3 separate regions of the Homo sapiens genome follow, and all the other regions are linked to region 3. The links come from fine-mapping of genetic effects on gene expression. A gene starts in region 3. Each other region holds a variant in brackets. All regions are shown on one strand. Distances are between the middles of the regions.

What was found. PIP is the estimated chance that this variant, and not a neighbour inherited with it, causes the effect.
Region 1: its variant is fine-mapped to the expression of RMP64 in blood mononuclear cells (TOPMed, PIP 0.92).
Region 2: its variant is fine-mapped to the expression of RMP64 in whole blood (TOPMed, PIP above 0.99). The same link has a PIP of 0.9 or more in neutrophils.

What each region holds. Positions count from the first base shown.
Region 1 is chr3:112,974,501-112,984,941 of GRCh38, reverse strand. CD200R1 (CD200 receptor 1) reads left to right here and starts at 9,839. Exons shown (of 8, transcript NM_138806.4): 1 at 9,839-10,151. The coding sequence starts at 10,085. The variant A/G (reference allele first, on the strand shown) is at 8,079.
Region 2 is chr3:112,960,856-112,971,296 of GRCh38, reverse strand. The region is part of intron 1 of CD200R1 (CD200 receptor 1); the gene reads left to right. Among named protein-coding and RNA genes, the nearest start is that of CD200R1, 9.0 kb to the left of the region's middle. The variant C/T (reference allele first, on the strand shown) is at 3,273.
Region 3 is chr3:113,013,918-113,024,358 of GRCh38, reverse strand. It overlaps RMP64 (ribonuclease MRP subunit p64), which reads left to right and starts at 4,688. Exons shown (of 9, transcript NM_015412.4): 1 at 4,688-4,817; 2 at 6,757-6,911; 3 at 10,327-10,406. The coding sequence starts at 4,712. It overlaps NEPRO-AS1 (NEPRO antisense RNA 1), which reads right to left and starts at 4,841. Exons shown (of 3, transcript NR_186663.1): 1 at 4,653-4,841. RefSeq lists a silencer at 4,900-5,009 and an enhancer at 5,170-5,239.

The DNA of each region.
Region 1 (10,441 bases), 39 kb after region 3:
GCTTCTAATTGTCCCCTAAGTTGCACAGGATGCAATTAATTCTGCCAGCAATGAGTTTTAACAACATGTGTGAAATGTTGTCTACTAGCAAAGCTCACCTGAGTCTAGGAGTCCAGGGTTTTTACCGAGCGCTGTTCATATAGGCATCTAGTGCCTGTGTGACTGACTATAGTCACTGAAAGTTCAGATTTGCAGAAGGAAAGCAGCATCAGTATGTACCACTTGTTTGTTCAAATAGTTTAGATACAGTGAGCCACTCATGAATGGAAAGTTGGCTCTGTGCCATGCAAGGAAACTGTTTACCAGTCAAGTTCTCAAATGTCAGCCCAGTGCCAATCTTGTAAACAAATCTTTCTAAGGGTAGCAGCCACAGGCCTGCTATATGAACTGTTTTCTGCACATAGATTAAAAGATAAAAACATTTAAAAATGAGAAGTTTCTCACCTGCACTTATTGTGAGATTGTATACTTGTAGGAAAGATGTATTCCAGGTTCTGCTCTAAATACAAGTGATTTCTCTGGAGATTTTTGAGAAAAGTGGGACAGACTTTCTCTAGTCATTTTAATAGGACATGGCAAAACTAGAATTCTTCCTGTGGAAGGAGGTTATAATCAAAGCTGCTGTCTCAGCCACCTGTAATAAAGTATGGGGCCTCTGGAGAGGAGTGCAATGAATTGGTGATTCAACTGGTATGAACATCAGGTTTAGCTGGAGTTGAGTGCAGCAATGTCCTTGAACATTCCCTCCAACCTCCTTACCCATCCTCCTCTAGGGGCTGGACAATCAGATTCAAACAATGTTTTGTGATTACTCTCTAGAAAGGAATAATGCCTGGTGTAGTGGTACTAGGTGGTTACCTAATAGGCAGGATCTCATGGGTGGCAGGCGCACGAGTGGTTGAGCCCAGAATGCTGTGATATATCTCTCTTCTGCCTAGACTAGTGCAAGTCAGAACCTAGCCTTTCACTCCTCTCTCTAGGTATCTGTTATTTACCAAGATAGCTGATTTTTTTTAAAAGATAGCTGATTTTACCATAATAGTATAATCTCACGAACTCACATTATGAACCCACAAGCAATAGAAGAAAAAGTAAGAAAAAGATAATTCATTCTAGAAGTAATCAGAATGAATGGACTTGGTGGGCAAAGAATTTAAATAAAAACAGAAAATATCCTCAGAGATAAGGGAATATATGGCAAACATGAAACAGGAAGCTTCTAAGAAGTACCAGTTGAACATATTAGATATGAATTATATTATTGTGAAGTAAATTTCTCAATGGATGTGTTTAATAGTTGAATAATATTATCAACTCAAAGAACAAAATAGCAGGATAATTAGATTGGAGAATATTTCAATAAATATTAGGAAGGGATAAAAAATATAAAGAATTTAAAAGTTAAGAGCTGCGAAGGTGAAAAGAAGAAATTTAAATAACAGTATTGTAAGAGTTGGGCATGGTGGCTTGGTCCTGTAATCCCAGCACTTTGGGAGGCCGAGGTGGGCAGATCGATTTGAGGCCAGGAGTAGGAGACCAGCCTGGCTAACATGATGAAACCCCTTTCTCTACTGTAAATGCAAAAAATTAGCCAGGTATGGTGGTGCACGCCCACAATCCCAACTACTTGGGAGGCTGAGGCATGAGAATTTCTTGAGCCTGAGTGGCAGAGATTGCAGTGAGCTGAGATTACACCACTGCACTCCAGCCTGGGTGAGAGAGCAAAACTCTGTCTCAAAAAACAAAACAACACAAAACAAAAGCAAACCAAACAATATTATAGGAGTACTTGAAAAAAATGAAGTAAAAGGAGGAAATTTGCTGAAAATTTCCAGAATTAAAGATACTTTGACTAGGAAGCAGAGCACTACTTCTTACAGGTTTCATTGCTTTATCATATTTAGCCAAGTAAAAGATAGAAATATTAAATCAAAAAAGATCTTATCTACTTCCTTTTCTCAATACAGAACATTCAACATTCAAACGTTTTCAGCAGTTTCATATTTCCTACTTCTTCTTTTCCCAAGGTGAGATAATCATAACAGTATTCTTTAGAAAATTCCCCTACACACATTTTGAAATCACATTAAATCACTCCAAGTTATTGGTAGTATATTAGTAAGTAAAAAGAAAGCATATAAGAAAGAAAGATCACTAGTAGGAAAATAGTCATAAAAGCATAACTTAGTTGTCAATGGAGCATAAATGATTTTAAGAAAAAAGTCTTAATATAGGCCTTCAGACTTTTAAAATTCTTAAATTTCCTGTATGGAATATCTGAGCTTTTATGTTTCAACAACATAATCAATGCTACAAGTGACCAAAATAAAAACGACTTTAATAAAATGCATTTCAGAAAGTTGTGGTAAAATGGAAGCAGTCACGAAACACAAGTGTTCTGTGGCTTCTGGTATCTGTTTACCTTTTTGCTGCTGCCCGCAAGTTAAATGATACAGTATTTTAGTTTTAAAAACCATGCTTTTGAAGCTGTAACTGCATCCTTCTTTTTCTAATCCAGTAGAGTGGAGATGATGTGAAATGGTCAAATTCAGGAAACATTTTAAAGTAGAGACCAAAAAGACTTGCTGATAGATGAGGAAAAGCAAAGAATCAAGGAATTGGACTTTTACATCAGGTGATACAGACTAAGAAATTTAGATCAATCTTCCCTCTCAAGCCAACTAGAAAATCTAGACATAATCATTTTAAAAGTCTACTGGATGGCAGATCAGTGACCTAGCAAGGTAATGAAGAATTACCTCACCAAGATTCAGAAAAAGAAAGAAATACAGATTGATGAAACTGGCATTGGAACTACATTTACCCTTGAGATGTTTACTGATTGATATAGAAGAGCTAGTTGAAAGGTGAGCAGTACCTTTTGTAGCCTCTTGAAATGAGAAAGAGTGGTTTGGGATAGGATGGAGTGGACGATAAAATCACCCCTTATATAGTGTCTTAGGCTGTTTTGTGTTACTATAACATAATACCACAGAATGGGTAATTTATAAAAGAAATTTATCTCCTACACAGTTCTAGAGGCTGGAGAGTCCAAGTTTGAGGGGCTGGCATCTGGTAAGGGCCTTCTTGCTCATCATAACATGGTTAAGGGTATCACATGGTTAGAGAGGAAGAGTGTGCATGTCAGCTCAGGTCTCTCTTCCTCTTATTAGAAAGCCACCAGTCCCATCGTTGGAGTCCCAACCTGATGACCTTATCTAATCCTGCTTACCTTTCGAATGCTGTACCTCCAATCAACATATAAGTTTGAGGATTAATTTCCAACATGAAATATGGAGGACACATTCAAGCCATAGCACATAGACTGCAACCTACCTTTGAGTCATCTGATTGCACAGAAAATTCTAGTCCTTAAAACTGGATTAAGGTGACTCCTGATTGCTACTGTTTATGGACTCCTGGCAGAAGCAAATGAAAATCTCCAGAGGAAGACAAAATTTTGCAGGGCCTCAAATAATTTCCAGTTTTTCTGCAATTTGAGAAAGAAAACACAATACCTGGCACATGAGGAGACCAAACATCACAGAAAGAACCAATAGAGATTTACCCACCATTACTTCAAATATTGGAATGATCAGACAGAGACTTTAAAATATTATTTTTATGTTTCAGGAGACAAAGGACTAAAAGTTTTGGTGGAAAACTAAAGTTACAAAAATGTTAGCAGATTCGAAAAAATCAAATAGCATCTGAGAACAGAAAAAAAAACAACACAGTAACCCAAAACTAAGAGGCTGAACTGAAATTTGAACCCAGAAGTTCAACTTAGGAGCCATAACCTTAACAGCTCCTCTCAAAATTAGATAAAAAATTGTGACATTCTTAAACTCCAACTGTAACTAATTAGAGTTTAGCCAACTTAAACTATTTTTCAGTTATTCACTGAAAACATTACATTATCTTATAAAAGATAGACAGGATGGTCAAATTTGGGGACAAAATAAGCCATTGATAAAATAAAACTGTGATGGATCAACAGAACATTTATCATTTCTTTGAGAAAGGCCCAATAAAATTTGAATAAAATTTCAGGCAAATATAAGCTTCTATGACTGACATAATTTTCATGATTCATATTCTTTTGTTAGAAAGTTATATAGAACTAATTTGCTTATCAATTAATATTGTCTGAGACATTTAAGGTAAACCCACTTGGCTCAGTCTAGACTATTTCTTTTTAAAATGTTCTGCTCTTCTTGACTTTAATATTAGGGTGTTCTGGAGATCAGATGATACTTGTCTCTCTTCAGCATGCTTTGCCTTGATGTTAGTTTTTAGCCAAGGTATATGATTGGGCTTTTCCTTTAAAAAATTTATTTCCATATCTTCTGGATTTCTCAGTTGACACTTACAGATGAAAATTACCTGACTGCCTCAGGGAGAAAATATCTTAATGCAGAGCTACTTCAAGGTTATATTTTTGACAAGATTTTCCATTAATTTGGTTTCTTGGGAATGAAAGACAATTGGCTGAGTGGAATATCATTGCATTTGAGACTAGATTTAGAGTGGATTATTTTCCAACATTTATTCAATTGGCAGACAAACACTGTGGGGTACCATCAACCCCCTTCATTGAAGGACTTTGTTGCTCCAGTGTTGACAGTGTTTTCCACAGTTCAGGGATTGGCCTCTTCATGGATTTCCTTACCCAAGGTCATGGTCTTTCCCGTGGCTATAACAAATGACTCATAGATGCAGAAGTGTAAAGATCTGCCCATTTCAGGACAACAGAGGACAACTCTAAGGGGCAGTTTCAGCTCTATAGCTCCCCATAGGGCTAGCTGATTCTGGTGTGGGCCTACCATATAGTGTGATTCCCTATACCCACATCAGTTTCTGTTCCTTCTTATCCCCAAGTGATGATCTGAGGTTACTCCTTAATATAATAACAATTCTTCACATTAAACTCCGTCTTGGAGTTTGCATTCCAGGGTACCCAAAGGTGGCAATCTTTGCAAATTTTCATGCAATGAGATAGGGAATCTATCTTCTATCCATCCATCCATCCATCCATCCATCCATCCATCCATCCATCCATTTATCCATTTCTTTACACTGCTGCTTTTAAAACAATTTTTAAATTTTATAGAGATGGGCTCTCACTATGTTGCCCAGGCTCGTCTCAAACTCCTGAGCTCAAGTGATCCTCCTGCCTCAGCTTCCCAAAATGTTGGGATTACAGGCATGAGCCACCATGCCTGGCAGCACTGTTGTTTTATTAAACCATCCTGGCAACTCAAAAGATTCATTTTTGTTTTTTTCAGCAACATTTCTTCAAGGTATAATATCTGTACTATCCATCAGGTAGTCATTTGTTATGTTGCAGCAGTTTCCAAAAGATGTAAATTAAATGTATAACATTTAGGCATGTTAGCATACTTTGTGATCAAAATCTTAATGTGAAGCTATTTTTGAATTTGCTAGATAAATTTACAAAAATCTTAGCATTGATTTCACCAAATTATCTCCAGGGGGCAGCAGAGAGTAATCTTAATGCAAATAGATGATTAGAAACAGCACAGGGTTTGCTTATTTATTTAAACAAAACAGACCAATTTTGAGCAGGTAAGGAAGAAAGAGTGAATTAGTACATAAATAGAGTCAGTAGGGGTTAGGAACCTGGGAGATGTATTGGAGACAAAACAGAGTTACCACCTTCAAAAAAGTAGATAGTAAAGCAGAGACTAATTAGCCACATAGTTTAAGAAGTAGACTTTGGAGTGAGATTTCTTGGGCTTGAATCCTGTTTCTATCACTTATCAGCTGTGTGGCTTTTGACAATTTACATAACCTCTCTGCTTTGAGTTTCCTCAATGGTAAGTGGTATTTACTATATAGGATTGTTGAGATAATTAAATTAGGTAATATTTATAAACTGCTTAGAACAAGATCAGGGTGTTAAGCTTAGGGCTTGACAAATACTTGCTATGGATCTGACCAGTGAGATTTACAGTTGATATTTAGCTAAATATAAAATGTGATTACTAATTTCTCTACTCTGATTTTGCTTATTTTGATACTGCACACATTTGATTTTCAAACATCTATTTCTCAATTTTCCTTTTTGTATAATCTGTAAAATTATAATAAAAAATAATCATTAATTCCAATATGATATATTTTTTCTAACTTTTTAAGAAGACTTTTTATACATTGACGTAGATCAACCATATATTAGGAGTAAAAATTTTCAAGAAAAATCAATATAATAGTAGGTATAAAAATAGAAGTATGCATTTTTTGAGGCTCTTTTAAGTTACTGTTTAGTCTATTTAATGATTGTCCATGGAGGAAGATACAGGATTTCAGATGAGTCTTGAGAGCATGGGTCAATGAAGGTTACAGAGAGGTAAATTGGAAAATAGAAAATGGAATATGCCCAGGAAAGCAGTCTTTTTATGCAACTGTATGTTGAATTATAGCATTTCTGTGGTAATTCATTAGATTCAGATCTGTAGTTATTGTACAAGGGAGCAGAGAGGAAGTAAAGACAAGAGTGGAGTGCTGTAGAGTTTGAGTCCCTTGAAATTCTTTAGACTATTCGGTATTGTTCTTTTTACCTCTGTGAAATTGGCATGTTACCACTTGGCTAGCAGTAGGACAGAGTAGATTGAGGGAATTAGGACTAAGTGTTTCGCTAGCATATTTGTGTGAGCGTGTGTGTGTGTGTTATGTTTGTGTGTGCACACATGCAAGTGTATAGAAGGGTAAGTCAGGCCAGATATCTAAGCCAGAGAGTTCACCAAAAGTAACAGTGACAAGGCAAGTAGTTATTGGCCCATTTTGCAAGAATGCACATCCAGAAAATTCAGCTATGGTAGGAAGGGCAGGCAGGTGCTGAAGTTCTCGGCAGTCAAGACTCAAATATAAGAGGTGAATGAGTCGGCAATGGTACTGGGGAGCAAAGGGTCCCGGGAACGAGAAGTCAGGAATAAAAGTCCATAGAATCTTTGCAGTAAGTATTCAAGAGCCATGCAAATCTTCTACATAATGGGGAGGAATCCCAAGAGGAAGGCTGCAACACTTCATCTTAAATGGTTTCAGTGTGGCTAAGTCTGAATCTGACATTGGAGAGAAAGATATACACCTGATTGGAAGAAGTTTACTTCAACAACATTTATAGTTATTACATCAATTTTCAGTTTATTGCAATTGATAAATTGAGTAAACCAGCCATGCTGGTTTGGGGGCATTATGGCCTAAAGTAGTTCTAATTTACTAAAGTTTCTCTGTCTTTTTGTTTTGGCTACAACATTAACTGGCATTACATTGTCCTGTTTGTTTCTCTTATGCTATGATTCTTAACTGGTATTATTGAAGGAGAATTGGAAAACTGGTAGAGTAAAAGGTTTGGGTTTCTGGTTTGAATGACACCTGTTTCTTGATCCTTTTTCACTCTTTTGCTTTGCTTCCTGGGTCCTGTGCCCAAGGGCCGCAACCAGGGAGAATTTGGGGCCTTTAGATTTTTTAGAGAGGTGTATTTACCAGACACATCTTTCTCTTATTATACTGACTTTCATGGCATGTCTTTAGTGGATGATTATGTTAACAAACTTTTAGTCCCTTTATTGTTTTAAACATTCATGGTCCATAAAAGGTAGAAGGTGGGAGTTGAGAGGTTACAGGCATGTGATTTGGGGGTGGAGAGGATGAGGGACCAGGGAGAGAAACTGTCATCCTGCCAAATCTATTTAGTGAATTTTATGGTTTTTGATACCCATCACTTGATTCTTAAACTGCTGATTGCAGATTGTGGTCTGACCTCAGGTGAGTGCATTGGAGTGTGTCTATGAAAGTTGTTGCCTGAAATTTCAAAGTAGAGGAGTTGAGTGAAAAGAACACAGGGCTACGAAATATAACACATTTTATTCCCAGCCGTGCCAATAAGTTGTTTTGAGGCCACAGGCCATTTAGCCCTTCTGTGGTTTAGTTTTGGCTATGTCATTGAGCAGATATTAAAATAAATGATCTCCAAGAATTTTTGATGACATGAGAAAAAGCTAATGTCAATATAATATAAACAGATACAGACTTGAGTAAGAAACTTTCCCAGT[A/G]TCACTGGACTAGTAATTGCACAACAGAGACTTAACCCTATGTCTATCTGTATCCTAAGCGAGTGTGAATTTTAACTTTAACTTCTCTCTGCTCACTGCAACCTCTGCCTCCTGGGTTCAAGCGATTCTCATGCCTCAGCCTCCCAAGTAGCTGGGACTACAGATGAGTGCCATCACACCTGGCTAATTTTTTTTTTTTTTTTTAAGTAGAGATGGAGTTTGGAGTTTTGTCATGTTGCCCAGGCTGGTCTCGAACTCCTGAGCTCAGGCAATCTGCCCGCCTCGGCCTCCCAGTGTCCTAAGATTACAGACATGAGCCACTACTCCCGGCCAACTTTCACTTCTATGTAGTGGAAAACCAGAATATTATCTGTATTTTAAATGATGTATTCTCACTAATTTTCCGACACCTGGTGAAACATTAGACAGAAGAGAAGACATTTTTGTTTTGGTCTTCCCATTGTCACAGCTCATACCCTTAAGTGTTCCATGCCCTCAAGGATCTGGTTTCACTGTCTTCATCAAATTAATTAACTGGAAAAAAAAGCTTGAGAAGGGGAAGGGGGGAAATATTTATAATGTTTGGCAAGAAGGAAGATGAAACTGCTAACTGAGAAAAAAAATGCATGCTGTTTAATCTTTTTCCTGTTTGCAATGTTTTCTTCCCCTTCCTGTACAGTTTTGCCTTGGGGCAGAAAATTCTCAGCACATAGAAGATTTTTCCCTCTCTCAGACATAACTTAAAAGCATAGTAACATAGTAACTAGCAACAGTAAGGAAGAGGTTTTTTTGTTGTTGTTGTTGTTTTTTTTTTTTGGTTAGGGGGAGTCTGAATTCCAGATGTGTGGCAACTAAGAGATGGGTGATTATTTGTAATTTGGTTAAAATGATCAGTCTAATTTTCCAAAGGTGAAACTGAATGGCAATAAGTACTGAGTTCTGATAAACAGAATGCCCTCACCCCCAACAAGGTAGATACCTATGTCCGAATTACCGAAACCTGTGAATGTTACCTTGTGTGGCAAAAAGGACTTTGCAGATGTGATTAAATTAAGATCTTGAAATTAGATCATGTTGGATTATTTGGGTGGACCAAAAATAATCACAAGGTCTTTATAAAAGGGAGGCATAAGGGTCACAGTCAGAGAAGATGTGACAGTGGACCAGAGGTCCGAATGATGTAGCTGCAAGCCAAGAAATGCAGGCATTCTCAAATCGCTGGAAAAGGCAGGGAGCAAATTCTGCCCGAGCCTCCAGATGGAGTGCAGCCCTTCCAACACCTTGATTTTAGTCCCCTAAGATCCATTTCAGACTTCTGATCACCAGAACTGTAAGATAATAAATGTTGTGTTGTGTTAAGCCACTGAGTTTGTGGTAATTTCTTACAGTAGCAATAGGAAACTAATACACATATGATGTTTACAGGGTTGTGTGTTGACTCCCATTATAGACAGGAATTTCACACAATAATTTTCAAGAAAACATATTGTATTCCAGACTCAAATACTAAGGCCGTAAAGCTCTTCAACCTGGAGAAAGCCTCTAAAAGTCATCATAATTGGGAAATTTACAAGGATGGGCCAAAGTAGATCAATATTCTGTTTTACTTTTTGGTGCAAGTTTAGACAAATCTGTTTATCTTGGACACGTTCAATGCCTTACTGTAAAGTTTGTCTGTGTACAGCAGAAGTGAGAGGAGAACCAATGAGCTGAGAGATAATTCAATCAATCTGCTTCCTCCGTCTTTGCTTCAGGGCTTCATACAGGAAATCTATTGCTGTGTCAAGTTCCAGAGAAAAGCTTCTGTTCGTCCAAGTTACTAACCAGGCTAAACCACATAGACGTGAAGGAAGGGGCTAGAAGGAAGGGAGTGCCCCACTGTTGATGGGGTAAGAGGATCCTGTACTGAGAAGTTGACCAGAGAGGGTCTCACCATGCGCACAGTTCCTTCTGTACCTGTGTGGAGGAAAAGTACTGAGTGAAGGGCAGAAAAAGAGAAAACAGAAATGCTCTGCCCTTGGAGAACTGCTAACCTAGGGCTACTGTTGATTTTGACTATCTTCTTAGTGGCCGGTAAGTTTGAATTCTCTTTGGGAGAACAGTGAGAAACCTGGTCTCAGCTCTTCCTGAGTTTATTTTTTGTCTTTCTTCTGGGGCAATACAAATCAATTGCAATAATAAATATAGGGGGTTGCTAAATATGGGTTACTCCCATATCTAGTTTACTTTATTATCCTTTTTTCCGGTGTCTTGCTTGTTGTACTTTGTATCCTACTACAATATACAGATCTCTATAATTTGTCTTACTGTCCATTTCCTTATTTCCTCCTGTTTTTTGAACAAGGCAGGATAAATCAAATACA
Region 2 (10,441 bases), 53 kb after region 3:
TTTGTTCTTGTCATTTCCTAAATAATTCAATATAATAGCTACTTATGTATTATTTACATTGTATTAGGTTTTATAGCAATCTAGAGATGATTGAAAGTATGTGAGAGATTGTACATAGGTTATATGAAATACTACACCATTTTATATTAGGGATTTGAGCATCCTTGAATTTTGCCATCTCTGGGGGTCTAGAACTAATCCCCCAAGGACACTGAGGGATGACTGTATAGAAAACTCTAGTGTTTGTGAATCATTCATGAAGTAGATGATCCATCCCACGAACAGAATAAACATATGGACAAAAACAATAGAATAAGCACTAGAGATATTTGGATTTGGGCTCTAAGAACCATACTTATCTCTTTCCAGTCTATAAAAGATAGGAAGATCTGAGAAGAGACAGGAAGGGAGCCAAAGTGGAGTATCAATTGAGTGCTTAACCTCATGTAGGAGGAGATACTCTTCTGAAATTGAGGATTAAGATGAGACATTAGATAGAGGGATGCTAGTAGCTTGAGGATGGCAATAAGGTAATGGGAACAAATGAGAGAGTTTACCGTAGATAAATTTCCTCCCAATAAGGTCATGAATATTTCAGTTAATGGCATTTAGTTAATAAAATGACCCAGTTGTTGTTTGATTTTATGTTGTGTCTGAAAAATTAACCATTTGTGTCTGAAAAACCATTTGTGTCTGAAAAATGTAGTAGCCATCAACATGTTTTTACCTCTTCTGCCTTATTATCACTCACATACATTTGTCAATTGCTGACTGGGATTTGGGAGCAGATCTGTGGTTATAAAATACCTTTGGACTATGTGATGCTAGTAGGCCCTAAGAATCAAGTCAACAATCATTACTTTTTAAATAATAATAATGGTAATAAATATCACTGATTTATATAATTCATATAATAGACACAGTCACAATCAGCCCTTTTTCCCCCCAGGAAGAAATGATATTGTTCATGCATTAACACTAAGCAACAACTTCAGAGTTTTTCTACATAGAATTTATATGCCTAGACCCCATTCTAGGACCAAAATCTTTAAGGAAAGCAATACCAAAAAGTTCCAGGATTAAAGCAGGGCTAAAAGTTTTTCTATTTCTTTTTTGAGACAGGGTCTTACTCTATCTATCACTCAGGCTGGAGTGCAGTGGTGCAATCATGGCTTACTGCAGCCTTGACCTCCCAGTCTCAGGTTATCCTCCTGTTTCAGACTCCCAAGTAGCTGGGACTACAGGTGTGCACCACCACGCCAGGCTAATTTTTTTTTTTGTATTTTTTGTAGAGACAGGGTTTTCCCATGTTGCCCAGGCTGGTCTTGAACTCCTGGGTTCAAGCAATCCTCCTGCCTTGGCCTCCCAAAGTGTTGGAATTACAGGCGTGAGTCACTGTACCTGGCCAGTTTTTCCACTTTTGAAGAAATAATTTTCTTCAAAAATGTCTGTTACTTTGAGTTATTGTTGCTGTTGCAGGTTCTCTTGGAAGTTAGACTCTGAGATAGAGTTTTGTGTACAGTATGCTTGTGAGCAGAGGGAGAAGTCTACCTGCAATCTCAACCAACTGACACCCTCACTGACCCCACAGGGAGCTCAGGAGCTAGATTGGCCTTAGAGAGGCCCTGCATTGAATAAAAATGGCTGTTCCTTTATAACTCCATCTAAATCAGTCGTTGGATATGGGCTCCCCTGGAAAGGGTCTGACTTTGGTCTAAGTAACTGAAGTCATCCCTGGAGAGGCTGAAAACTGAAGACTGTCTGTTGACAGTGATCCTAGTGGCAGGAACAAAAAGTCAGAGGCAACTGTTGGTGGCACATACTATGTCCACTCTAGTTGTCATTTCTAATACTCTTAATTCCTTCTTGAATTTCCAAGTTTCTACCTGGTATTATTTTCTTTCATCCTGAATAATTTCTGTTATTGTTTCTAGTAGTGTAGGTCTGCTAGTGAGGAGTTCTCTTAGTTCTTAGTTCCCTTTTTATACATATTTTCCCCAATATCTTGTCTCTCTGTTCTTTTGATTGAATAATTTCTATTGCTATATATTCAAGTTCACTGACAATTACAATTTCCTTTCTCCTCTTCATTCTTCTGTAAAGCCCTAGTTAATATATTATTTTAGATATTGTATTTTTCAATTTTAAGATTTCCATTTATTTGTTAAAAGTTTTTTTTCTCTGCTGAGATTTTTCTGTGTTTTTATTCATTCATTGTGAGTATATATTTCTTTATGTCACTAAGCATAGCTGAATGTTGCTGTAAGACTCTTGTCTGAGAATGCGAGTGTCTGGGTCAACTTGAAGTTGTTAGTCTCCCTTAATGTATTTTCTCCTAAGCATAGGCCACATTTTCTTGGTTCTTTGTAAATTAAATAGTTTTATTTGGGTTTTGAATGTTGCACAGATTCTGTTATATTGCTGTGTTGATATTTTACTTGGTTGGACCCAAACTGCAAACTCTACCCCTTGGACAGCATCTCAAATCTGAGTTCTTTTACTGGTAGCTAATCTGCTTTGACTGTGACCTGCAATGTGTGGTTTAGAGTCATCAGAGATATGGGTAGAGTGTATGCAGAATTTGGAACTCTTTTACTCTGACTCTGTCACTTTTCAGAGAGTAAAGTTGCCCTAAAATCTGCCTGCTGGTTCTTCAGAAAACTGTGGGCTTTCCATTAGAGTAGCTGCCTAATGTGGTATCATCTGCAGCCCTCTCTGGGACTAACATCGGTAAAAATGGGGAAATAATGGGAACCTACACCCACAACTCTGATCCCCTATTTCCTTCTTCCAAGCATTGACACCCTTCAAGAATTTTTCTGCTTCCTCCACTTTCCAGTAACCTCAGGTAGTTGTTTTTATATTTTGTCCACAATTTATAGTTCTTACCTGTGGAAACTCACTGGCCCATAAAGAAGTGAAACTTTCTTCAAATATACATATTTTAAAATATTATTGTATTTTTACAACTAATATTGACTTAGTGGTTATATTGTCTTGGATGTTAAGATTGAATATATTATTATGCTTTTTTGCTTTCTAAATGTTACCCATGCATTGAATGTTTTGGTACATTTCACTTTTCTCAGTAAAATTTCGTTCTTCTTTCCCATAATTTCTAGTAAAATTTCTAGACACTAATTTAGATACCAATAGATACCAATTTCTAAATACAAATATAACTCTGTGTTGGGTCTAAAGATCAGTTATGTAATTCTAACCACTAGCTGTTTCATCTTTAGAAATTGCTTAACTTCTTTTGACAGTAATTT[C/T]CTCATTTGTGAAATGAAGATGTATGACACTATTAAGAAGTATAAAGCCTTCACAAAGGAAGTACTTTAGGAACCTTCAAATTAAAAATCTTTCATTTTATACATGGGGCAAATAAAGCCCAAGTGTGTATGTGGGATTGCTAATCATATCAAACAGCTTTCTGGGGTGTGAGCTGAGTTTTGAACACCTTCATAGTACAAAAATTAGAGGGGAAAGGGATGGGGCAAGTGTGTGGGAGAAAAATCTATGTCTTTTAGATGTGATACACTTGAAATGACAGCAAGTATTCAAGTGGGGACAAATTTCAGCTAAATGTTTGAGATTCTTGCTTAGGAAAAATAAGTCAAAGCAAAAATGTGGGTGGGTTATTCTGTCAGCCAGTAATTTAGAGTGTCTGTCATGTATCAGTCACTGTGCTTCATGCTGTGGACATTTGATCAAGACAGACATAGGTCCTGCTCTCATGGAATTTAAATCTGGTGGGAAAGATAGATATTAAATCAATTACTGCAAATAATTAAACAATGCGCAAGTGCATAAGGATAAATATAGGGTGACATAGAAATGTGTAACTGGTGAGTCTAATCTGGTTTGAGGATCAAGTTAGGCTCCTCCAAGGAAGTGATGTTTAAGATGAAGATGAACAGAAACAGCGAGGTAAGAAGAGTTGAGGGATAAACATTCCAGGCAGGTCAAACAGGCTTAATGAAGGACAGAGGGAGCTAAACTATGACTGGAGTGGTGAAAACAAGAGGAAATCACCTGTATAGAGATCTAGTTGAAGTTCAAGGGGTTAAGGAGCAAGAGGAGAGAAAGTGTAAAGAGAAAAAGCAGCTGAGACTTTGGTGAATACTGACATTACGATGCCCAAGGAGAAAGATAGCTTGTAGAAAATATATGAGAGGAGGCAGTGAAGATAGGGAAAGAGACAGAGAAGGGAATGCATGGGTGTAGTGGGAAGGCTAGGAAAGGGGTTTTAGAAGGAGAAGAAAGTGGTTAATTGTGTTAAAATCCATCAACAACTTAGGAACACCAGCACTGAAAAGAGGCCAAAAGCTTGACTATAAAAGGGCTGGTGACCTTGAAAATTGCAGTTTGAGTAGATAGACGTGGGAGCAGCGAGATTGCTGGTATTGAGGAGGGAGTGAGTGGGAAGGAAATTGAGGCTGTGGGCACAGACCACTCATTCAAGAAGTTAGGCAGCAAAGAAAGGAGAAGGGATCCTAGCTAGAAGGGGAAGTAAGCATCTAATAAAGTTTTTTTTTTTCTACCAACATAGGGGAAACCTGAATGTGTTCAAAGGATATTATTTGAGAAAATTCAGTGATTTGGAAGAAATATTTTTCCAACCAGTATGTGTTTATGTAGTTTTAAGGTGTTCAGTAATTTCTTTTCTTTTTCTCTGCCATTTTGTTACCTTACCATGAATGCTACCTTTTCCTAAAGGTTTATCCATTACATAATATGAGAATATCTGGTTATATGATTCATTTTGTGGTGCTGATAATTCCTTGAAAAAAATGTCCAAATGGTAAATGTTTACAGATCCCCAATAATAAAATCTAGCTATTTTTATTCTTCACAAAATTATCCTACTTATCTTTAATTGGCTCTTCCCTAGTTGTTCCCCAGGGATGGTTCTAAACCAGTGATTTTAAGGTAGTTGCCAGACAGAACTCCCTATAGAGCCTAAAATTGCCTATAGAGCTTAAGCCTGCTTAATCAGACTTTTCCAGTGTATAGGGATCTAGACTTTCACAAGTCTTTTCAGGGTTTTCTGATGGGTGCCAGGGTTCAGAACACTGCTCTAGGTCTTTCCTAGTTTCCTCATCACCCCAACTATCCTCATTTCCTTTGCAGACAGCTGCTCACCTCCTGATTTACCATTGTCCAGTGTGGACTTCTTTAATGTCCACAGATGGTAAGGTTTCTGAGAGCAGGAACCTTGCCTCATTCAAGCTGCCATTCCCTGAGCTCTGCCGAGCTACTTGCCACTAAGTAGGTACTAACAAGTGTTTGTTAACCTGCTTCCTCAAAATGTTTCTTGTGTCTGTAATAATTCTTAACCTTTTTGTTCGCCTCTCAGAGATGAAATATCAATCTCTTTAAAAGCAAACCTGCTTTTTGTCTCATTCCTTCTAGTACCTCTGGGATCCTGCCTGACCAGTTAGCTTCCTCATTCTAGTAACTTCTGGCTCTCCCTCTTTCTGTCTACAAACATGCTGTGTTCCCCTTTATTATTAAATATCTTTTTTTTTTCTTTTGAGATGGAGTCTCACTCTGTCGCCAGGCTCGAGTGCAGTGGTGCGATCTCGGCTAACTGCAACCTCTGCCTCCTGGGTTCAAGCAATTCTCCTGCCTTAGCCTCCCGAGGAGCTGGGACTACAGGCGTGCGCCACTGTGCCCAGCTAATTTTTGTATTTTTAGTAGAGACGGAGTTTCATCATGTTGTCCAGGATGGTCTCCATCTGTTGACCTCGTGATCCACCTGCCTCGGCATCCCAGAGTGCTGGGATTACAGGCATGAGCCACCATGCCTGGCCTGTTAAATATCTTCTTGATCCCTCATAGCTCCTGATGTTGCCCCATCTCTCTCTCTTTCAAGTTTAACATGAAAGGATGAAACCAGTCTCATTTCTCCCATTCTTTCAAGGTCAGCATTCTTGAAAGACTTAAGTCTACATTTGTTGACTCCATTACCTCTGATCAGCCCCTTTCAATCTGGTTTCCACTTGTACTTCTTTGTTAAACTTACTCTCTTTCAGATCTTAAGGTCACTGATGATCTTCTTGTTACCAAATCACAAAGCTTCTTAATTCTTAGGTTAAGACTGTTCTGCATATGATTTAATCTTGATTCTTCCTGTCTTGAAACCTCCTCTTTACTTGGTATAATAGTCCATTTTCACACTGCTGATAAAGACATACCTGAAACTGGGCAATTTACAAAAGAAAGAGGTTTAATGGACTTACAGTTCCACATGGCTGGGAAGGTCTTATAATAATGGTAGAAGGTGAAAGGCACATCTCACATGGCTGCAGACAAGAGAAGAGAGCTTGTGCAGGGAAACTCCCATTTTTAAAACCATCAGATCTCATGAGATTTATTCACTATCACAAGAACAGCATGGGAAAGACCTGCCCCCATGGTTCAAATACCTCCCACAACACGTGGGAATTTAAGATGAGATTTGGATGTGGACACAGCCAAACCATATCATTCTGCCCCTGGACCCTCCCAAATCTCATGTCCTCACATTTCAAGACCAATCATCCCTTCCCAACAGTTCCCCAAAGTCTTGATTCATTTCAGCATTAACTCAAAAGTCCACAGTTTAAAGTCACATCAGAGACAAGGCAAGTCTCTTCTGCCTATGAGCCTGTAAAATCAAAAGCAAGTTAGTTACTTCCTAGATACAATGGGGGTACAGGCATTGTGAAATACAGTCATTCCAAATGGGAGAAATTGGTCAAAACAAAGGGGCTACAGGCCCCATGCAAGTCCAAAATCCAGCAGGGCAGTCAAATCTTAAAGCTCCAAAATGACCTCCTTTGATTCCATGTCTCACATCCAGGTCATGCTGATGCAAGAGGAGGGTCCCCATGGTCTTGGGTAGCTCTGCCCCTGTGGCTTTGCAGGGTACAGCCACCCTCCTGGCTGCTTTCATGAGCTGGCATTGAGTGTCTGTGACCTTTACAGGGGCAGAGTGCAAGTTGTCAATGGATCTACCATTCTGGGGTCTGGAGTATGGTGGCCCTCTTCTCACAGCTCCACTAGGCAGTGCCTCAGTAGGGACTCTGTGTGGGGGCTCCAACCCCACATTTCCATTCCATACTGCCCTAGCAGAGGTTCTCCATGAGAGTCCTGCCCCTGCAGCAAACTTCTGCCTGGACATCCAGGTATTACTGTACATCCTCTGAAATCTAGGCAGAGGTTCCCAAACCCCCATTCTTGACTTCCATGCACTGGCAGGCTCAACACCACATGGAAGCTGCCACAGCTTGAGGCTTGCACCCTCTGAAGCCATGGCCTGAGCTGTATGTTGGCCCCTTTCAGCCATGGCTGGAGCAGCTGGCACACAGGGAACCAAGTCCCTAGGCTGCACACAGCATATGGACTCCTGACCTGGCCCACAAAACCATTTTTTTCTCCTAACCCTCCAGGCCTGTGATGGGAGGGGCTGCTGTGAAGGCCTCTGACATGCCCTGGAGACATTTTCCACCTTGTCTTGGGGATTAACATTCAGCTCCTTGTTACCTAGGCAAATTTCTGCAGCTGGCTTGAATTTCTCCTCAGAAAGTGGGATTTTTTTTTTCTATGACACTGTCAGGCTGCAAATTTTATCAACTTTTGTGCTCTGCTTCACTTATAAAACTGAATGCCTTTAACAGCACCCAAGTCGCATCTTGAATACTTTGCTGCTTAGAAATTTCTTCTACCAGATACCCTAAATCATCTCTCTCAAGTTCAAAGTTCCACACATCTCTAGGGCAGGAGCAAAATGCTGGCAGTATCTTTGTTAAAACATAACAAGAGTCACCTTTGCTCCAGTTCCCAACAAGATCCTCATCCCCATCTGAGACCACCTAAGCCTGGATTTCATTGTCCGTATCATTATCAGCATTTTGGCCAAAGCCATTCAACAAGTCTCTAGGATGTTCCTAACTTTCCCACATTTTCCTTTCTTCTTCTGAGCCCTCCAAACTGTTCCAACCTCTACCTGCTACCCTCCAAAGTCAGTTCAACATTTTTGGGTATCTTTTCAGCAGTGCCCCACTCTTCTGGTACCAATTTGCTGTATTAGTCTGTTTTCACACTTCTGATAAAGACATACTTGAGACTGGGCAATTTACAAAAGAAAGAGTTTTAATGGACTTAGAGTTCTATGTGACTGGGAAGGCCTCACAATAATGGTGGAAGGTGAAAGGCACATCTTACATGGCAGCAGACAAGAGAAGAGAGCTTGTGCAGGAAACTCCTGTTTTTAAAACCGTCAGATCTTGTGAGACTTAATCACTATCATGAGAACAGCATGGGAAAGACCTGCCCCCATGATTCAAGTGCCTCCTACTAGGTCCCTCCCACAACACATGGGAATTCAAGATGAGATTTGGGTGGGGACACAGCCAAACCATATCACTTGGCTTTGTGGCATTGCATTTATATCCTACTTTTCTTCACTGTTTTTGTAAAGTGCAATGCCTCCAAGAGATCTCTAATTATAAATGTTTTCAAGGCTCTAGTTTTGGCCTTTTCTCTAACATCAGAGACTGCAATTTGGCAGCTCATGGGTTATATCTGGCTTGCAGACACTTTAGCTGATACATGTAATTTTTTTTAAAAAGTTAGCTGCCAATTAATAATAAAATTTGGACATTTTACCTATAATCCCTGACCTAGTGTCTGGGGTGGCAATAAGGATTAAGCCCAATGATGCAGGTAAAGTACTTAGTGCTGCATCTTCATTTATAAGCATTCAAAAATGACAATTTAATGATATTTTGTGGTTTTCAAAGCTCTTCTTGTATATTATTTGATAACATTTAATTAGCCCCCTACAGACCAGCTTTTTGGTTGTTTTCAGTTTTTTTAAATTACAGTTTCAAAACTGTGTCAGATTTTTTGGAAAACAATGCTAGAATTAGTATCCTGGTACACATATCTTTGCATATGTTAATATGCATATGTATTCAGTGTCTACATATCCATTGAATGTATTGTCCTTTGTGATCAGTGATACACATTTACACAACATCTGCCTTAGGTTAGGGAACATGTTTGTCTTCATTAAGTAGTTTTGGAGTTTGTGACAGTAATTGCCTCAAAAAAATACTCCCAAAACCAAAAATTAAAACCCAAAAAACAAAACAGGCCAGTAAGATGGCTTTTATTAGCAATACACCCTAATAACTGCCACAGACTTTATATTGCCTTAAAAAGTAGGGCCAAATTTATTAGCATAATACTTACTGCTTTCTAAATTTTGTCCTTCCATCAAATTCATTATTGAATTGTTGTTTTGAAACTTCCTACTTTTCTAAACACTTCTCACCTTTCTTTTTATAACCCATCTGTATGTTTTATTTTTATCCCTATGTTGTACCTAAAGAGTAGAATTATAATTACTGTGTCACCTTTAACATATTTAATCTTTTGTCAGCCTGTTCATACCTTTGCCCATTTTTTCAGTTGAGTTGTCCATCTCTTTTTTTATTGGTTCATGTGTTTTCAGCATATTTTTTGAAGAAAATTAATCTTTCTTTGTTTTAAATGTTGCAAACATTCCCCAGGTTTTTGCTTGGCAACATTGTTTTATGTATTTTTCTTTTTCTTTTTTGTCATACAGAAGTTTCAAATTCTCTCTAGAGTCAGACTTCTCAATATTTTTCTTTATGGTTTCCATGTTTTATATCAGGATTAGAAAGATTTCTTAATTGAAGGTGAAAAACTGCATCAGTTTGCCTGGAACTTTTTTCCTAGTTTTAGCATGGAATGTCCTGCATCCCAGGAAACCTCTCAGTCTGGCAAACAACGATGTTAGTCAGGCTGTCTCTTAAGATTAAAAAAAACAAAAACAACAAAATTACTTATATTTTCTTCCAGTACTTTTGTTTTTGTTTCTTATATTTAAATCTTTTATTTATTTTATTTTGGTATGAGAAGTGAAATAAGAATCTGATTTTGTTTTATTTTCCCACATGGCTAGCTAGTTCTTATAATAGTATTTATCAATGACATATATAATCATCTTTCCCTCCAGGAATTTGAGTGGCAAGTGGTATCAGATACTACATTCTCATATATGTAGATGAAGCAACTAGGGTTTAGAAAGTAACCCCTGCGAGATTCCAGGGGTAATAAATGAAAGGGCCAAAATATTAGTCACTTTTCTTATTTTAATTTTGAAATTTTTTTCTATAATTGTCTCTGCCAGAACTTTGAGTTTTCACCGCCCGCCTTTCTTTTTTTTGCTGAACATCTAATTTGGTGTTCACATCTGCTACTAACTAGATGTGTTTAAAAATTAAAATCAGTTTCATAAAGTGTCGGAACATGAAACATACAGCATAATCAATTCTTCAAATTGTGTTTTAAAATGCTAAAAATAAAAAAGTAAGTACTAATCTGTACTTTTTGTATTTCTTTGTACTTTAGTTTTCTTTTATAT
Region 3 (10,441 bases):
TCTGTGTCTTTTTCTTTTCCAAATCTCTCGTCCCACCTTACGAGAAACACCCACAGGTGTGTAGGGGCAACCCACCCCTACAGGCTGGTGGAATCCTGACTAGTAAACTATCCTTAAAATCAGAACAAAACAAAACAATACTCTTCTTGATCCTGCATCTCTCTGTCACCAATAAACTCCATTTTCCCTCCTATCTAAGCTACTAAAAATATTGTTTTATATTCATTGTCTCTACTTCAACCCTTTGCAATCACTTTTGAGCTATAGTCCCATTTATTCAACTGGTGAACTGCACATTTTCTCGTGGATAGCCATGGACAATCTCAAACTCAGTATATCGAAAGTTATCTTATCACCCTTGCCACCTCCCTAAATCTATTTTTCTTCTGAATGTCATATTTCGAACTTAAGGTGAAAATCTGGAAGTCATTTGTATTAGTCCATTCTCACATTATTATAAAGAACTACCTGAGATTGGGTAATTTATAAATAAAAGAAGTTTAATTGACTCACAATTCTGCAGGCTGTACAGGAAGCACAACTGGGGAAGCCTCAGGAAACTTACAATCATGGAGGAAGGTGAAGGGGAAGCAGGCACATCTTACATGGCCAGAGAAGGAGAGCAAGCGAGCAAAGAGGGAGGTGCTACACACTTTTAAACAACCAGATGTCCTGAGAACTCACTATCATGAGAACAGCAAGGGAGATTTCTGCCCCTACTATCCAATTGCATCCCACAAGGCCCCTCCTCCAACATTGGGGGTTATAATTCAACATGAGATTTGGGTAGGGACACAGACCCAAACCATATCATCATTCTAGACATGTAAATATGTAAATAGGTTGAGCATCTTTAAACTGAAAATCCAAAATCTGAAGTGCTCCAAAATGCCAAACTTTTTGAGTACTGACATGATGATACAAGTTACCCTGAACACATTAATTTTCACTGTATTAATGGTATATCATTTTTTTTACTATTAAGCACATATGTGTGAATAAGAGAAAAAAATGGTTGCTTAACAGCAGCATATAGGCTGGGTGCGGTGGCTCACACCTGTAATCCCAGCACTTTGGGAGGCCAAGGCGGGCAGATCACAAGGTCAGCAGATCGAGACTATCCTGGCTAACACAGTGAAACCCCGTCTCTACTAAAAATACAAAAAAACATTAGCCAGACATGGTGGTGGGCACCTGTAGTCCCAGCTACTCGGGAGGCTGAGACAGGAGAATAGTGTGATCTTGTGAGGTGGAGCTTGCAGTGAGCCGGGATCGTGCCACTGCACTCCAGCCTGGGCAACAGAGTGAGACTCTATCTCAAAAAACAAACAAACAAACAAACAAACAAACAAAAAAACAGTAGCATATAAATTCAGAGTCAGGAATGATGTTGACACCAAACAACCACAGACTGTCCACATGGGTGATTGAGATGTACACAAACTTTGTTTCATGCACAAAATTATTAAAAATATTACATAAAAGTTTCTTCAGGCCATGTGTTTAAGGTAGATATGAAACATACATACATTTCATGTTTATACTTGGGTCCCATACCCAAGATATCTCATGTATATTTGCAAGTATTCCAAAATCTAAAAAAAACCGGAAATCTGAAACAATTTTGGTCCCAAGCATTTCAGATAAGGGACACTCTCCACCCATGCTAGACATCTAAATAAGTCATACTGTCTATATCCAGTAGAAATGCTTGAAGGTTTGGGTCTGCATCATTTCTGGCCTTAGCTTTTGTAATAGAACAGATGGGCCTGGTCTCCTTACTTCCAACCTCTTCTCTCCCAAATCTGTTCTCCAGGGTGCTCTTCTTCTGAGGCAAGCTGACAAAAATTGCTCTGCCTAAGACTCAGTGAGTGACTCCTTTATCACCTATAGCAAGGACACGTCAACCTAGAGTACCATCACAAAGACCTTTTCAAAACAGACCTACTCAGAACTAATGAGTAAGAATTTTCAAGTGGGACCTGAAAATCTCTATTTTTAAGTTATCCAGGCAATTTTGATAATCAGCCAGGTTTCTGAACTACTGGTCTTCAGGTAAAAAGCCAAATTCTTCCCATGATCTGACTGACACCACTATTCCCAGCTCCACCCCTCAGCACAAATCACGTCCCAGCAGTACCAACTCAGGACTAGTGATTCTTCAAACCCATGCTGCTTAAAACCTCTCTGTAGGAATATCCTTTTTCCTTTAACTGCCTGGGGAGTTCCTATTCATCCTTCAAAAGACTCTATTCAAGCATCATCCAACCTCATATACAGCCAGTAAATATCTACTGAGGCCCTACTATATGCCAGGCTCTGAACTAAGCATTGAGATAGAAAGACCAGTTAGCTATGTCAATGGTAGTTCTCGCTTTCAGTAGGTTCATATGCCATTGGAGAAATAGACATGAAAGTAAACAAAGAAATACAATAAAGCGAGGTAAATTCTGTGAGAGAGGCTGTGGTAGGCTGAATAAAGATCCCTCCACCTCCCACCCAAAGATGTTCACATGCTAATTTCCATAATCTGTAAATATGTTACCTTGCACTGAGAAGGGATTTTGTAGCTATATAACCTTGAGATTTCAGCTGCTTGAGATTTCAGCACCCCAGCATTTTTGTGTGTGTGTGTGTGTGTGTGTGTGCATGAAATAATGAAAATTTTGAACAGGCCCTTGCTTGCTTGTACATGTTAACCACTCGCTTTTTGCCCAGTATTCCTTGTTCCCACAATGTAATTATAAACTGCTGATGTACTGTTTCTTTGTCAAGCAGAAGGAGATAACTTCAGGGTCATAAGAATAGTTTGCAGAAGGAATGAATTCCTGGAAGGACATTGCAACCAGCTGCCATGTACATACGGCTGCACAAGGTGTTACCTGAAATGGAAGAAACACAGACTTTTCCCTTGGATTCCTTGAAACTCCCTCTCCATTACTCTCTAGCTCCATAAAAACTCCCTGCTTCTTTTTTGTTACTGTGGATCTGAGAGATCTTGCTCTCTTGCCCTCTAACTTTGGTCAAATCGAATAAATATTTCTCTGTCTCCAAGCACCAGTATCTCAATATTTGGCATCAGCTGCCCATCGGGTACATGAGCCTGAATTTGGAGTTCTAAAACAGATGTGATTAAGTTAAAGATTCTGAGATGGAGTGACTATCCTGATTATCTTGATGGGCTCAATGTAATCACAAGGGTGTTTTTAAGAGGGAGGCAGGCAGGAGGGTGAGAGAGACAGAGGAAGAGGAGGAGACTGAAAAATGTCATGCTGACAATGAAGGTGGAGGATAGTGAAATGAGCCAAGGAATGAAGGCAGCCTCTAGAAGCTGGAAAAGGAAAGGAAATGAATTCTTCCCTAGAGATTCCGGAAGGAACCAGCCCTGCCAACTTCAGTCCATTGAAATTAATTTTGGACTTCTGACCTCCAGAAATGTAAAATAACTTCTACTTATTTCAAGCCATTAGGTTTGTCGTAATTGGTTACAGCAGCAATAGAAAACTAATACATAGGCCAACATAGGGCACTGTGGTAACACATTAAAGGGGCCTCTGTATCAAGTTATGGAGTGAGGACGGGGTGTTTAGGAAGAATTACCCCAAGTGACGACCCCAGAGCTGAGGAAAGGAGATTGTGTTTCCGAGGATGACCCAGGTAGAGTAGGTAGATGTGTAAAGGCGCACAGAAAGAGCATGGAAAGTGTTTCAATAAAGTAAGACTGCTTGCATGAAATAGTAGTAATAACATCAACAATATTAACTATGGTAAATGTTCATTGTTTGTATGCCAGGAGTGCCTTGGCATTTTACAAGTCTGTGAGATTGATACTATTATTATCATCTTCATTTTACCCACAGGGATACTAAGGTCTGGAGGAGGAGGTAAGTAAATTTCCTGAGATCACCGAGCTAGTAAACAGCAAAGCTAGAACTAGAACCTTGGCAGTCTGTTTCCAAAACTCACTGTTTTTCTAATACGTTACTGTGGGAGTGTTAAGAACTTAAGGGGGCATTAGCATGGCTGAGGATAAATGAATTATTAGAAAGATATTAATGAGGTAAGGATCACTAGAGCTTGGAATATGATCTTGTCTTGGAGACTGACAAAAGTGGGAATGACTGACAGGTGTCTTCCAAGTTTCTTTGATGTGATCTCGGTTTTGCTGTGGTTCAAGACATAAAGGAGCCTTCCTTTACCACTCAAAGCAAATCACTGCTTCTTCGCTACAAATTCCACACCTTGCACAAACCTCTTCATTTCATTTCTTCCTTTTTCCCCTAATGTCTGAGGCAGAGTTGGGGGTAAAAGCACCAACTCAATTCTGGGCCTCATTTTCCATATTTGTAAAATGCCTAGAAGTATTTAACAGTTCCAAACTTGGTTGTGCTTCCGAATCCCCTGCGCTAAGTTTAAACAAAACGCAGATTCCTCATCGCATTCTCAGAGATTCTGTTGGTTAGTATTGGGATGGGGCCTTTTTTCCCCCATGATTCTACGCGGCCACGTGTTGGTAACCAATATACAGATGACTGGGTCCTTCCCAGTCCCACGCGTTTACTCGATGAAGGCAGCCTCCCGCCGGGCTCCTGGCCCCGCCCGAGCCCCACCCCCTGCTCCCTTCCGGCCCGGACTGGGTCCCATCGCCCCACCTCCGGTCGCTGGACGTGCTCTCGCGTAGCTCCGCCTTTCGTAAGTCCCCCCGCCTCGCATGATGGCTGCGGTGCCGCCGGGCCTGGAGCCGTGGAACCGTGTGAGAATCCCTAAGGCGGGGAACCGCAGCGCAGTGACAGTGCAGAACCCCGGCGCGGCCCTTGGTGAGTGAGGCGCCGGGCGAGGATGGGGGAACGTTTCCGGGGGAGGCCGCCAGGCCCAGCCGGCGCATGTGGGCGGGGGTGGTACCGGGACTTCCCGGCCCGGGGGACGCTGGGAAGGGGCGCGGGGCACGTAGGGGTCGAGCGGTCCCAGCACTTTGCTGGTGTAGCTTGTAGGGCCTCTGGCTTCGCATTCCTTCATTGAACCAGCTGTGCTAACCCAGGGCTTGGCTGGAGAGATGAAAGACCAAGGCTCAGCCGTGCGCTGAGGGGGCGGAGAGAGGTGGACTCAGCTGGTGCCGGGGAACAGTGCTGCCTGGGAACCCTTGCTCACCCGGGTCTTCGGAGTCTTGTTTACCCTTCCGTCCATTTCCCCTTTCCTTCTTTTTCCTGTACCCGAGGAGCGGTGGACGTCACCTAAGCACTGGGACTCAAACTGCAATCTTTTCGGACCTCTATCTGCTTATCTGTGAAATGGAGTTAGTCCTCCTACTCCTCACAGGGGCGTTGGGAATATCTAATGATGTAATTTAGGAGACAGTGCGCTGTAAACGACGGTGTTTTGCCACCTAAATGGGTGGTATTTGTTAGGGTGAAGGGCATATAGTAGGTAGGAGCCTGGCGCAGGAGCCAGGTTGTTTGGGTTTGAATACTAGCTCTACCCTTTGCTGGAGCTTGAAGGAGTCATTGAACCTTTCTGTGCCTCACTGATCTCACTTTCAAATGGAGATAAAAGCACCTTCCTCATAGGGCTGTTTGGGGGGATGAAAGAGTTGATAATGTAGAGAAAGCATTTGGAACACTGCCTGGCATGGTAAATGAACACTCAAATGGAAGCTGTTATGAATATTAAATACGTAGCTCCGGGGCCCAAGGGAGAGAATACAGTCATGGGTTCTTTGTTTCCGGTTGGGCTGGTAAAGCCCTTTCCTCATCCCTCTTTTCACTAGAGACAAACTAAAAACCATGGCTTTAAGCTGCAAAAAGCCTAAAACAAAACAGAACAGAACAACAAAATAAGGCGGGTTGGACAAGCTTGACTTAGATCATCACATCCCCTTTCCCATATATCCATCCTACACACTTTACAGATTATCCCATCTATCCTTCCTACACACTTTACAGATTAATCTTCCCTCTTTCTCTATTCAAAAATTCTTTAACAACTCCTATTAGGCCTGGGAAATTCACCAACTCACTACCCATCCCCGAGGCAGCCCATTCTGTCTTCAGGTAGTTGTTGGGACAGTAAGAAAATTCTTGTTAGGTAGCAACCAGCCTTTACTTCCATTTAGAATGCTAGTGCTGCCTTTAGAGCCATAAATAACACATGAACTACATCTTAGGGACTTCTACAGATTTTCAGACTAGGAAGCATCTGCTGATGAGCACCCGGTGTTCATCAAATAATACGATTTCCAGTTACTGTGGTGGTTTTTCTTTTCTGAATATGTTTGTGTCTCTCATAAAGTGATATCCAAACACAGAAGCCTTGATTTTGAAGACTGTGAATTTATTCATTCTGTCTTGCTTTCGGGCATAGCGACATGGGGAGTTAGAGAGTTATTACACATGTTGTGACATGTGCCCTACCTTCAAGGTGGGGGTTAAGTGTACACATGAGGCGTAAGTGTACACCAAATGACTGACAGCAAAGTATTCATATGAAAGATTATTAAACCATGATAAAATGCAATGCAAAGATACAGCTTCTTGTTTTACAGATGTTCTCTTAATGATTTCCTGGACTTTATATCATCTGTTACCATTTTCCAACTTCTCTTATACTTAGAATCCTTACGTTCTTACAGTTGAGACTGATTACATTAGTTTTTGATTCCTTTAAAACAAATAAGGAAAGATGCTTTTTTTAGTGTGTTTTTAATATAATATACTTACTGTAGAAATACATACTAAATCTTATTAGATGTCTCTGCTTCAGACCTTTGCATTGCAGCTGTAATTAAAGAATGCCATCTCGTCATACTGTCGCTGAAGAGCCAAACCTTAGATGCAGAAACAGATGTGTTATGTGCAGTCCTTTACAGCAATCACAACAGAATGGGCCGCCACAAACCCCATTTGGCCCTCAAACAGGTGAGGAAGCCCGGTAGGTGAGACCCAACCTGTTCACTTGAAAATGTAGATCACACTGCCACTTACTATATTGCTATTTATGGAAATCTCGTGGAAATCTCAGTAAATTACTTGTGTTTTATAGGCCTATAGCCCACAGTTACATGTGCACTTTCTTTTTTTTTCCTAAAAGCATTTCAGCATTTCAAAAAGTAATTTTTGTTAGAAAAGAAGTATGTTTAGATTCTTTCCCAGTCTTGTTTCTAATAGGCAAGTAAACATTTTCTTCATTATATACAATCTATAACAACAGTGCCTTTGCCCAGCTCAAAGATAAAGTGATTTGAGCAAGACAAAATGTTGGACATTAAGAAACAGTTCCCTGGGCATAATCAGAATGCTAAAATTATTTTTAAAAAAACTTGTCTACTTATTATGGGGTACATAATCTAATTGGTGGTATGTTAGAGTAAATGGGTACATAGCAAGTTGTGGTGTAAACTGGTTTCATGTAATGTTTGGAGCTTAAGACAAAATTGGGCCCTCCAGCTCAGGGGCTATACCATAGAGTAGAGCCTCTCTTAAGCTGGCTTCCTGATATGCTCATTCATTCATTCACTTAATTCTGCAAGTATTTTCTGGAAGTTCAGAAGGCTATCCATTGTGTGACAGGGCTACCTTGCAAGTGTTTTTGAACTTTCTGTGTGCCAGGCATTCTGCTTAGTGCTGTGTATAGAGGAGTGAAAAAGGTAGACACAGTCTCTAACCTTATAGATGCATGCTTTCTGGTTAGTTTTCTACCCCTAGTACTTAAAGCAAACAGGGTGAAGATTTCATCAAAGAAAGATCTGGGACCATGGTCTTTCCCTAAATTTTCCATTCTAGGGTGGCTTTTATCTTTTTCGGAGTCTTTTTGATCCAAAAGCAAGCTTGCTAACCCTCAAAGTGAATATATTTCTCCTTCTAGCTTCTGGGTTGTGAATAATCACCCCGTCATCAAAATTTGGCATTCTCTAGTCTCTCTCTCTTACGTAGCTCTCCCATCCAGGCAGTCCATAAGACAAAACTTCCTCTGCATCTGGTCCCCTCTTCAGTTCTGGCTGCCATTTTCCTTTCTTAGACCTTGTCAACTTTTAGTTGTCTTACTATCATAACTGATGTTTCCTCCTTCAGCTTTTCCTAAGTTCTGGCATATTCTAAATATTAAAACCAGGTTAATCATCTGAAAACACAACTTTGATTTTTAGTCGTTCTCCATTGTGTCCTGAGTAAAGACCAAACTTCTTAGTTTGGCTTACGAGATCTGTGATCTGGCCTCTTCAGTCTTCTTAGTTCGGGCTTCTCTCTTGCGTTCAGATAGATTATATTCCAGCCAACCTGGACTCAACACACCTGCATGCTCACTATGTTTGTTCCTGCTTCTGAGTCTGCTTACCTGGTCCTGTATGTTTAGAATGCCCAGCCTCACCATGTCTGCCTGTTAAAGGCCTTCCTATCCTCTAAGTCCCATTTTAAGCCTTTCTGGCAGTGATAATCTGTGTTATAGTAATCTCATTTTAAGTTGTATTTTTCTGATTATTACTGAAGTTGCTTTTTTTTTTTTTTTTTTAAATTCTTGGCTATTTGGGCCTCCTCTTTGTACTTATAGCATTTAATATAGTCTGTGTCATGGTAAAGTTATTTGTGTATATATTTTATATTCCATGTGATCCCTGAAGTAGGAAACATGTTTTATGCTTATGTTACTGCTGCAGCTGCTATTACCACTTCTACTACTGCCTTACAACTGCTTAATATTTCACAGTTTTCAGAGAACTTTCATGTAAGTACTAGAATTGGCCTGTCTCTAAACATTCCCCTAAATGGAACACAGAAAGTAGTTTTGATTCCTGTTCTGTGGAGTACATGTAGGGCATGCTGGCAGATAAAGTGGTATTAGAAACTTCCCTATCTCTAGTTGCTAAAAATCTAGTAGTAAAAATAGGAAGACATGTAAAATATTTAATTAAATGCTAAAATAAAAACAGACCCTATTTAAAATTGCAATCTTCTCAGCACTCCCTCTCTGCCTTATTTGTCTTCATAGCACTTAACACCACCTGCCATTGATTGACTGCCTTTCTCTCCCAGCTATAATGTAAGCTCCACAAGGGCAATGTATTTTGTCCCTTTTGTTTACCACCATAATCCAGTTCTTAGAACAGTGTTCAGTAAGCACTCAATAGGATTTTTAATTTTTTTTAAAAAAAGTAAGAGCCATGCATGGTACAAAATGCTGTAGGAATTCTGTAGTCCTCAGGAATAACACACAAAGGGCAGCATGGGACTGCATCTAGACAGATACAAAAATTTGGATGGGCATTGATACTGGCAACAAGAGTATCTTGCCAGAGCTGCAAATATACTTCTAGAAATTGAACCAAGGTTATGGATTCTGTTTTAACAGCGGTTTTCAAGAATAATGGAGGGAACAATCCTTAAATTCTTTAGGGTCAGCTCCTATCTTTTTCAGTTTTCAAGTCTGGACACCATCCTTTGAGGGAGGTATTGACAAACCCAGATGGTAAAGCACTTGGAAAACATAGTAAGTGAACTGCGGTTCAAAAGAGAAAAAAAACCCAAGAGAGAGAAGGGAGAAAGAGAGAAGATGCAGAGGAACATAAGAACAAGCTTCATCTAATCAAAGAATATATTTGTTCAGTGATTAAAGCCAATCGTTTTCCTCATCTCTGTGGTACTTTATAGACTGTTGAAATTTAGTAGTTAATAATTTTCTATCTTGTTTTAATAGTTTCACTATTAAAAATCATGTTGTCGGCCAGGCGCGGTGGCTCATGCCTGTAATCCCAGCACTTTGGGAGGCCGAGGTGGGCGGATCACAAGGTCCAGATCGAGACCATCCTGGCAAACACGGTGAAACCCCGTCTCTACTAAAAATACAAAAAATTAGCCTGGCGTGGTGGCGGGTGCCTGTAGTCCCAGCTGCTTGGAAGGCTGAGGCAGGAGAATGGTGTGAACCCAGGAGGTGGAGCTTGCAGTGAGCCGAGATCACGCCACTGCACTGCAGCCTGGGCGACAGAGTGAGACTCCATCTGAAAAAAAAAAAAAAAATCTTGTCTTAGCAAAATTATAATCTTGAGAATAACCTATACTCGTTTTGGTCCCTTTTATGACATCAAGCTCATTGTGGCATATACTAATTTCTTAGGAGTCACCTGATTTTAAAAATGTGTTTGGCTGGATAAATTCCAAATTTGTAACTAGAAGCAATTGCTTGCGCTTTGGATTTCTCTACCCTGAAAAAAAATAAGGTATTCTGTGATATTTAGCATATTTCCATACTTTGAAAATCTAGAAGTCTTTGCTTTCCTGGTCATAATCAGTGACCCTGTCTGCATTACATACACATGAATTTGAACTGCTCTTCTTCTTTCAGGTTGAGCAATGTTTAAAGCGTTTGAAAAACATGAATTTGGAGGGCTCAATTCAAGACCTGTTTGAGTTGTTTTCTTCCAAGTAAGTAAGTGGTCCAGTTGCTTTGTGATGTGGTG